Linked DNA regions of Homo sapiens. The protein of the gene in region 2 interacts with the protein of the main gene of each other region in a biochemical or structural test. Each region holds a gene or a part of one and is shown on either strand. Other genes may lie near its edges.

Region 1 (5,239 bases), on a different chromosome or scaffold from region 2:
TGACTTCCTCAGAGCCCTATTTATTGCTTACCACACCCTGCACTCCAGCCCTACTAACCTGCTTGACATTCCAAGACTACACGCCATTTTAAACCCCACATGTTGACACCAACTGCAGTGTTTCTTCGGCATGGAAGGTCCTTGCCCTGCCCCCTTATTTTACTTGGAGAATTACTGGTTCTTCCAGAACCAGTTTAGAATGCCCTCCTGATTTCCAGTTTGCTTTTAGATTACAAAATGATATCCATAATGATTAGAAAGATACATAACTTATACATACATCCGAAAAAGAAGTCATCTGAAAATCTACAAATTTTTATAAATCAGTAAGAAAAACTTACGACACAATATTTTTTTTAAAGGGTAGGGGGCAAAAGACTTAAAAAGGCGCTTCACAAAACAGGAAACTCAAATGACCAAGAAACATATGAAAAGATGTTGGCTGGGCCTGGTGGCTCACGCCTGTAATCCCAGCACTTTGGGAGGCCGAGGTGGGCAGATCACGAAGTCAAGAGATCAAGACCATCCTGGCCAACATGGTGAAACCCCATCTCTACCAAAAATACAAAAATTAGCTGGGCACGGTGGCACACACCTGTAGTCCCAGCTACTCAGGAGGCTGAGGCAGGAGAATTGCTTGTACTCAGGTGGTGGAGGTTGCAGTGAGCCGAGATCATGCCACTGCAATCCAGTCTGGCAACAGAGAAAGACTCCGTCTCAAAAAAAAAAAAAAAATGATGTTTAACATCATTACTCAGGAAAATGCAATTGAAAACCATAATGAAATATCAATACACACCCATAATAGGTAAAATTTATTACAATGACACTGCCAAGTGTGGGCAAAAATGTGAAGCAAACTTAAGTGTCTTTACACTTGTGGGAGAGTAAAGTAGTTCAATCAAAACTACATCTTTGAGCCTGGGCAACATAGGGAGATCCCATCTCTACAAAAAATTTTAAAATCAGCTGGGCATGGTGGTGCTCACATGTAGTCCCAGCTACTCAGCAGCCTGAGGCAGGAGGATCATTTGAGGCCAGGAATTTGAGGTGGCAGTGAGCTATGATTGTGCCACTGTCAGCCAACAAAGCAAGACCCAGTCTCTAAAAAAAAATATATATATATATATAAAGTCAGCCCTCTGAAACTGTGGACTCTGCATCCATAGGTTCAACCAATCATGAATCAAAAACAATCAAAAGTAAATAAATAATAACAAAATAAAAACTACAAATTAAAAAAACACCATGTAACAACCATTGACATGGTATTTACATTGTATATATATTATTAGTAATCCAGAGATAATTTAAAATATACAGGAGGATGTGTGAAGGTTACAAGGGACTTGAGTATCCTCAGACTTTGTTATTTGAGGGTGTCCCAGAACCAATCCTCCAAGCGTACTGAGGGATGACTGTATATTCTATATGATTTCATTTATATGAAATTCAAGAACAGACAAAACTAATCAATAATGATAGATATCAAAAAAGTTGTTGCTCCTAGGTGGTAGAGTATAGACTCGGGAGAGGCATGAGAAAACTTATGGAGCATTGAAGGGGTTTTATATACTGATCTACATGGTCGTTACAGGGGTATAAATAAATGTAAAAAAAATCATCAAACTGTACAATTAAGACGAATGCACTGGGCCAGGCGTGGTGGCTCACGCCTGTAATCCCAGCACTTTGGGAAGCCGAGGCGGGCAGATCACAAGGTCAGGAGATCGAGACCAGCCCGGCCAACATGGTGAAACCTCGTCTCTACTAAAAATACAAAAATTAGCTGGGGAGTGGTGGCACGAGCCTGTACTCCCAGCTACTCAGGAGGCTGAGGCAGGAGAATGGCTTGAATCGGGGAAGCGGAGGTTGCAGTGAGCTGAGATAGCGCCACTGCACACCAGCCTAGCGAAAGAGCAAGACTCCGTCTCAAAAAAATATGAGTGCACTGCCAGGCATGGTGGTAGGCACCTGCAGTCCCAGCTACTTGGGAGGCTTAGGTGGGGTATCACCCAAACCCAAGAGGGTGAAAGCGGCCTAGGCAACAAAGCAAGATCCTATCTCTAAAAAAGAAAATTAAAATTAAAAATGATGTTTTATCCTTAAGAGGGAGTTTCACTGCGTCGCCCAGGCTGGCACTAAGTGGTGCAATCTCAGCTCAAAGCAACCTCTATCTCCCGTGTTCAAGCAATTCTCCCACCTCGGACTCTGGAATAGCTGGGACTACAGGCATGTGCCACCACTCCCAGCTAATTTCTGTATTTTTAGTAGAGACGGGGTTTCATCATGTTGGCCAGGCTGGTCTCAAACTCCTGACCTCTAGTGATCCTCACTGATCTTTAAAAGATCAATGCACTTTACATACATGCATATACATGTATGCTAGGACTCAATTTTTGAAAAATGAACAAAACCATGCACAAGTAAAAGAATAACACACCAAAACAATTAGATACCCTAAATTAACATGCTAAAATTTTTTTTTTTTTTTTTTTTGAGATGGAGTCTCGCTCTGTCGCCCAGGCTGGAGTGCAGTGGCGCCATCTCAGCTCACTGCAAGCTCTGCCTCCCGGGTTCAAGCAATTCTCCCGCCTCACCCTCCTGCATAGCTGGGATTATAGGCACATGCCACCACGCCTGGCTAATTTTTGTATTTTTAGAAGAGACGGGGTTTCGCCATGTTGGTCAGGATGGTCTTGATCTCCTGACCTTGTGATCTGCCCACCTCGGCCTCCCAAAGCGCTGGGATTACAGGCGTAAGCTACCACGCCCAGCTGCTAAAAAATTTTTAAATTAAAAATAATTAGTGGAGCCACAGCTGACACTTGCTTCTTAAATCTTCTGTATTATACTGAATTCTGTACTGAATTTTTTACCATGACCATATTACTTTTATTACTTTAAAAAAAAAAAAAAAAAAAAAAAAAGCTGGGCCAGGGGCAGTAGCTCATGACTGTAATCCCAGCATTTTGGAAGGCTGAGGCAGGCAGATCACTTGAGGCTTAGGCCAGGAGTTCCTGACCAGGCTCTACTAAAAATACAAAGAAAATAAGCTGGGCATGGTGGCGCATGCCTGTAATCCCAGCTACTTGGGAGGCTGAGGCATGAGGAGCGCCTGAACCCAGGAGGCAGAGGTTACACTGAGCCAAGATCATGCCACTGCATTCCTGTCTGGGTGACAGAGCAAGACTGCCTCAAGAAAAAAAAAAAAAGTTATTTCATTAAAATGACAATATTAAAATGAAATCTGGCCAGGCGCAGTGGCTCAAGCCTGTAATCCCAACGCTTTGTGAGGCCAAGGCAGGTAGATCATGACGTCAGGAGCTTGAGACCAGCCTGGCCAATATGGCGAAACCCTGTCTCAGTGAGCCAAGACCAGGCCACTGCAGTCCAGCCTGGGCAACAGAGCAAGACTCCATCTCGAAAAAACAAAACAAAACAAAACAAAAACAAAAAAACTAAGCACTACTGTACCTAAATCTTACAGTTCTCATCACACTGTCCTGCAATGGTCTTTTCACAAAGCAATCTCTTCTACTTTAATTATCTTACTCTTCTAGCATCCAACACACACCCTGGCACTAGCTATCTGCAGCACTAGGTATTTGCTTCGTGTCCATTTACTGTATTCTACTGTAGAGGTAGTAAGCAAAAATGTTTGTTGAATAAACAAATGTGTAAAAAAATAAGAAATGAAAATTAGGTAATCCATGAGAAGTATTCCAAAGTCATGGGCTTATGAGCTTGAATTTATACTACAGGGAAGTATAAATTCAAGGGTTGAGGCTTACTGAATAAGGATATAAACTTGTATCATTACATTCCAAAACTGTCTCACCAAGCTGGGCACGGTGGCTCACGCCTGTAATCCCAACACTTTGGGAGGCTAAGGCAGGCAGATCATTTGAGGCCAGGAGTTCGTAACCAGCCTGACCAAGATGGTGAAACCCCATCTCTACTAAAAATACAAAAATTAGCCAGGCGTGGTGGCACATGCCTGTAGTCCCAGCTACTTGGGAGGCTGAGCCAGGAGAATCGCTTGAACCTGGGAGGTGGCAGGTGCAGTGAGCCATGATTGCGCCAGTGCACTCCAGCCTGGGCGACAGAGCAAGATGCCATCTCAAAAAAAAAAGTAGAAGCAAAGTATACCCAGATATCCTTTAGCCTGTGAATAAACTGTTAATCCACACAATGGAATACTTGTTACCAATAAAAAGGAAAGCACAGCCAGGCACGGTGGCTCATGCCTATAATCCCAGCACTTTGGGATGCCAAGGCGGGTGGATCACCTGAGGTCAGGAGCTCGAGACCAGCCTGACCAAAGTGGAGAAACCCCGTCTCTACTTAAAATACAAAATTAGCCTGGCATGGTGGCACATGCCTGTAATCCCAGCTACTCAGGAGGCTAAGTCAGGAGAATCGCTTAAACCCAGGAAGCGGAGGTTACGGTGAGCCAAGATCGTGCCACTGCACTCCAGCCTGGGCAACAAGAGCAAAACTCCATCTCAAAAAAAAAAAAAAAAAAAAAAAAAAGGAATGCTCTGCTCACACAGGCAACAACATGGATGAATCTCAAGGGCATTACGCTGCATGAAAAAAGGCGAATCACAAAAGGTGACATACTGTATAATTCCATTTATATAACATTCTCAAAGTGGCAACATTAAGTGATAGAGAACAGATCAGTGTTTCCCAAGCTTAGATTTGAAGAGAGAGTGACTGTTCTTTGTGGTAATGAAACAGTTTGGCATCCTGACTGTGGTGATTATTCTAATCTACACAAGTGACACAATTTGTTAGAACTACACAGAGAGTGCATGTAAAACTGATAAAATCCAAGTAAAATCTTTCTTGAATTAATAACATTGTCTCAATGTCAATTTATTGGTTTCAACAATGTTCTATGGTTAAGATATCAACGTCAGGGAAGTTGAATAAAGAGTACACAAAGAACTCTGTACCACTTTTGCAAGGTCTTGTGAGTCTGAAATTATTTCAAAAGTAAAAATTTTTTTTTTTTTTTTTTTTTTTTTTTTGGAGACAGAGTCTCGCTCTATCGCCCAGGCTGGAGTGCAGTGGCACAATCTCGGTTCACTGCAAGCTCCGCCTCCTGGGTTCACGCCATTCTCCCGCCTCAGCCTCCCAACTAGCTGGGACTATAGGTGCCCGCCACCATGCCCGGCTAATTTTTTGTATTTTTTTTTTTAGTAGAGACGGGGTTTCACCGTAGCCAGGA
Region 2 (5,239 bases):
ATACCTGTAATCCCTGCACTTTGGGAGGCCGAGGTGGGTGGATCACCTGAGGTCAGGAGTTCCAGACCAGCCTGGCCAACATGATGAAATCCTGTCTCTACTAAAAATACAAAAAATTAGCTGGGCGTGGTAGTGCATGCCTGTAATCCCAGCTACTCAGGAGGCTGAAGCAGGAGAATCACTTGAACCCAGAGGTGGAGGTTGCAGTGAACTGAGATCGTGTCACTGCACCCCAGCCTGGACAATAAAAGCAAAACTCCGTCTCAAAAAAAAAAACAAAAAACTTATTCCATCAGATATCTTAAATCATCTCTCTCAAGTTCAAAGTTCGACAAATCTCTGGGGCAGGAGCAAAATGCCGCCAGTCTCTTTGCTTTTGCTACAGTTCTCAACAAGTTCCTCATTTCTATCTGAGACCACCTCAGCCTAGATTTTATTGTCCATATCACTATCAGCATTTTGGGCAAAGCCATTCAATAAGTCTCCAGGAAGTTCCAAACTTTCCCACATTTTCCTGTCTTCTTCTGAGCCCTCCAAACTATTCCAGCCTCTGCTTGTTACCCAGTTTCAAAGTCACTTCCACATTTTCAGGTATCTTTTCAGCAGCACCCCACTCTACTGTATTAGTCCATTTACTGTGTTAGTCTGTTTACTGTGTTAGTCCGTTTTCACGCTGCTAATAAAGACATACTTGAGACCAGGCAATTTACAAAAGAAAGAGGTTTAATGGGCTCGCAGTTCCACGTGGCTTGGGAGGCCTCACAATCATCGTGAAAGGTGAAAGGCACATCTCACATGGCGGCAGCAAAAAAGAATGAAAGCCAAGCAAAAGGGGTTTCCCCTTATAAAACCATCACATCTCATGGACTTATTCACTACCATGAGAACGGTATGAGAGAAACCACCCATGATTCAATTATCTCCCACTGGATCCCTCCCACAACATGAAGGAATTATGGCAGCTACAATTCAAGATGAGATTTGCGTGGGGACACAGGCAAACTATATCACTACTTAACACATTAAACCCAAATTCAACAGCTTAAAACAATACACATTTGCAATCTCACTACTTAACACATTAAACCCAAATTCAACAGCTTAAAACAATACACATTTGCAATCTCACAGTTGCTAAAAATCAGAAATTGAGTGTTGCTTGGCTAAGTCCTCCAGCCCAGGGTCTCTCAAAAGGCTGGAATCGAAGTGTCAGCCAGGGGTGCAGTCATCTCAATGTTCAACAGGGAGAGGATCTGCTTCCAAACTCTCTCGGTGGTCGTTGGCAGGATTAATATCCCTGAGGGGGCTGGGCGCAGTGGCTCACGTCTGTAATCCCAGCACTTTGAGAGGCCAAGGTGGGCGGACCACGTGGTCAGGAGATCAAGACCATCCTGGCTAACGTGGTGAAACCCTGTCGCTACTAAAAATATAAAAAATTAGCTGGGCGTGGTGGCATGTGCCTGCAGTCCCAGCTACTTGGGAGGCTGAGGCAGGAGAATTGCTTGAACCCGGGAGGCGGAGGTTGCAGTGAGCCAAGATCGCACCACTGCTTTCCAGCCTGGGCGGCAGAGTGAGACTTCATCTCAAATAAATAAATAAACAAATGCCTGAGGTTTTTTAGACTGAGAACCTCAGTTCCTTACTGGCTGGAGGTCCCCTTCAGTTCCTTGACAGGTGGGCCTTTTCACAGGTCAGTTCACAACATGACAGCTGACTTCCTCAAGGTGAGTGAGCAACAGAGTGCCAGCAAAAAGGGAAGTCATAGATTTTGTAATCTAATCTGAGAAGTGACATCACACCATTTTTGCCATATTCTAGTAGAAGTGAGCCTCTAGGTCTAGTTCACCCTCAAGAGGAAGGAACTACACAAGAGTGAATACCAAGGTCATTTTAGAAGGCTCCCTATCACAGGTAGTATAATGGAAAAAGCAACTGGAATAAAAACCAGAACAAAAATAGGTTCTAGTAACTATGTGACTAAACTGAGAAGGTAGCCTAAATGACCCCTACGGTCTCTTGGCAGTCTTTTGAAAAAGATTACCAGAGATTAGAGATACTTCATCAAAAGGCCTCATTTCACAAAAGAAAGCTGAGTTCCAGGAAAAGTTAAAACAAACAGGTAGTGAGCCACACTTATTTTGCTCTTATGCCCAGTGCTCTTTCCACTATAGTAAACTGTTTTTGTAATTAATGCTCTAAAACAGTTCTATCTTCTCTTTATGATAGTCTCAAAATCTAATAAATTCAATAGAGAGAATAATAATACAATGCTGACAAAAGCAGCTACAATTGATTAATCTTGTGCATTATCTCTTTTTCTCTCATCAACCCTAAAGCCATCTCTAGATGGTACGTGAAGTTGCAAGTGGAAGTGAGTCATCTGCCCATCCCCAGTCCCAGGTAGCTGGACGTACTAGTAATAAGATTTGCTGGAAATAAATTATAAAAGCAACAAATAAGCAATAGACAAATACATTCACCTTGAACACACAGTCACCCTAAATATGGTAAACAAGATTAAATGTAACCTAAATAAAGTATCTAAAAACTGCAACCAGAAAAGGCAAGGTTTGTTAGTAATGAAATCCTGGAAAATTGTCCCAGAAGTCAACAATGGCAATGTAGTGCAGGCAATATGCAGGGGAGAAGGTACGGTCAGAAGCTAATGACTACAATTGGACTCACAAATACATCCTTACTAATATGAAAGCATCACCTAAGGATGATCGTACAAATTAAATATTTGTGCCACATAAATTCCCTATTTGCTCCCTTATGAAGTCTGAAGCCCTGGAGGGAGGGGACTCCCTTGTCTGAGAATCCCTCCTACTGGCACATGCCCTTTATTACCCATAATAATTTGTAGTGACTCCAAGCTGATTCAAGGAGTGCCATGAAAAACACGCATATGAACACAATTGCTTTGTGTGGGACTTATAAAGCAGGAAGGTATTTACATTAGTCATTGTGTGTGTGTTTGTGTGTGTGTGTGTGTGTGTGTAATGAAATGCAGTATGTACTGGATCCAGAATTTCTATATGAGAAAAGCTTACTTAACTGCAATGAATTGATAGTGGAAGGTGAGGCCCCTCTTAAATCTATCTGCATAACAATCAAGTAAGACTAAAAAAAACAATTATACATATCAAAGAAGGATCACACTGATGAAATTACCCTCACACCCTTCATTAGTATTAGCATATATCTAAATGTGCACTAAATTCACTTCTATAAATTACTTAAAAACAAGAAATGGGCTGGTGCAGTGGCTAATGCCTGTAATCCTGGCACTTTGGGAGGTCGAGGCAGGAGGACCTGAGGCCAGGGGTTGGATACTAGACCGGACAACAAAGGTAGACTCTGTCTCAACAAAAACAGAAAACAAAATAGCTAGGTGTGATGTTGAGCACCTGCAGTCCTATCTACTTGGGAGGTTGCAGCAGGGAAGACAGCTTGACCCCAGGTCAAGGTTACAGTGAGCTATGATTGCACCACTGTACTCCAGCCTGAGTGACAGAGCAAGATCCTGTTTCTAAAAGCAACAACAAGAACAACAACAAATACCTAGAAAGTGTTAGCTAAAAATGTTAACATGGATGGTGGGCTGAATGGTATTAAAGTAAAATTTTGGGCAATACTGAGCAAAAGGCAGGGGGCCAAGAGTAAAAGATGAACTGGGCAGCCCAAAGAGACATTTAAGGAAGAAAGGGCCTCCATCCTGGGAAGAGGTGTCACAGTTGAGCTTCACGGCCCAAGTCAATGGCTATTACGTCCTATATCATGAGTGTACTCAATCACTAGATAAAAATGTCAGAAAACCCAAGATGGAACAGCTCAAAGGACAAAATGCACCTTAAAATATTACAATAACTATATTATATATTTTTACATATTTTTACTCAAAATATCCAGAACTGTCTAGACATTCATCCTTTTCTTTCCTAGCCTTTTAAATAATATCAAAGAAAGACTGTCTCTTCTTTCTTTTCTCACTTCTTACCTGTCTTTTGTTCTTCAGATTTACAGGGTGAGAAGAAAGTGGGAGAAGTAAAAACAATTCAGACAAGAATCAAACTGGCCTCTAATTAGTCTTAAGGTAAAACTGGTAAACCAAATAAAGTATGTTTAGAGATCTGAAATCCAACACCAAAACACTATAACACATGCTGCTTTACAATACTGGCCAGGTGTGGTGGCTTGTGCCTGTAATCCCAGCATTTAGGGAGGCTGGGGAAGGAGGATCACTTGAGCTCAGGAGTTTAAAACCAGCCTGGGCAACATGGCAAAACCCCATCTCCACAAAAAAATATTAAAATTAGCCTGGGCATGTTGGTGTGTGCCTGTAACCCTAGCTACTTGGGAAGCCGAGGTGAGAGGATCACTTCAGCCCAGGAGGCAGAGGCTGCAGTGAACCGAGATCACCCCACTGCACTCCAGCCTGGGTGACAGAGGTACACCTTGTCTCAAAAAAAAAAAAAAAAAAAATACACACACACACACACACACACACACACACACACACACACACACACACATAGATAGATATAGTATTATGGATCTATATTTCTCTAATATAGCCCATCTCAGTTACTGATTTCACATCCAACCAATTGGCAAAAAATTGAACAAACATTTTTCAATAGAGCAGGGGTTAGTACGCTATGGCCCACAACTCAAATCCAGCCAGAGGACTGTGTTAAAAAAAAAAAAAAAAAAAAAAACTAACTGGGAAACCATTAGGTTGAGACAGCTCCAGCACTTTGGGTTCCTATGTAAACAAACCAAAACCCAACTCAATGTAAACAGTAAAACTAAACTTGAGTTTAATCAATCAGAAACCACCAAACAACTTCTAACTAGAGACATTCCACTGTTACCAATCAAATATTTTCTGTTTCCATAAACACCTTATAAAAGTTTTCCCCTCACACCCTCTTGGTGGAGTCTTGAATAACTTGTGGTCTGGTGATACCCAATTTATGAAATTGCTGAATGCTCATATAAACTCTAAAATTTCCATGTGCCTAAAGTTATCTTTTAACAACTGTTTTTGTATAACCCATGAGCTAAGAATTGTTTTTACATATTTAAAGGGTTGGGAACAAAGTAAAGAGGAAAAAAACAGAAAAGAATGTGTAACAGAGACTGTACAGCCTGTACAACCTAAAATACAGGTAGTCCGAGCTTCACACATTACTTGGTTAGCTGAAACTCTACAAAGCGAGGGCTGCCTACACTT

The links. The genes of interacting proteins can lie anywhere in the genome.
Region 1: of the proteins of MIPOL1 (region 2) and SRPK2, one has a biochemical effect on the other in vitro, tested with the Homo sapiens proteins (one large-scale study listed by BioGRID).

The regions. Positions count from the first base shown.
Region 1 is NC_000007.14:105,378,043-105,383,281, forward strand, and holds part of SRPK2 (SRSF protein kinase 2), read right to left. Parts: intron 1-5,239. UniProt on the Homo sapiens protein: Serine/arginine-rich protein-specific kinase which specifically phosphorylates its substrates at serine residues located in regions rich in arginine/serine dipeptides, known as RS domains and is involved in the phosphorylation of SR splicing factors and the regulation of splicing.
Region 2 is NC_000014.9:37,200,147-37,205,385, reverse strand, and holds part of MIPOL1 (mirror-image polydactyly gene 1 protein), read right to left. Parts: intron 1-5,239.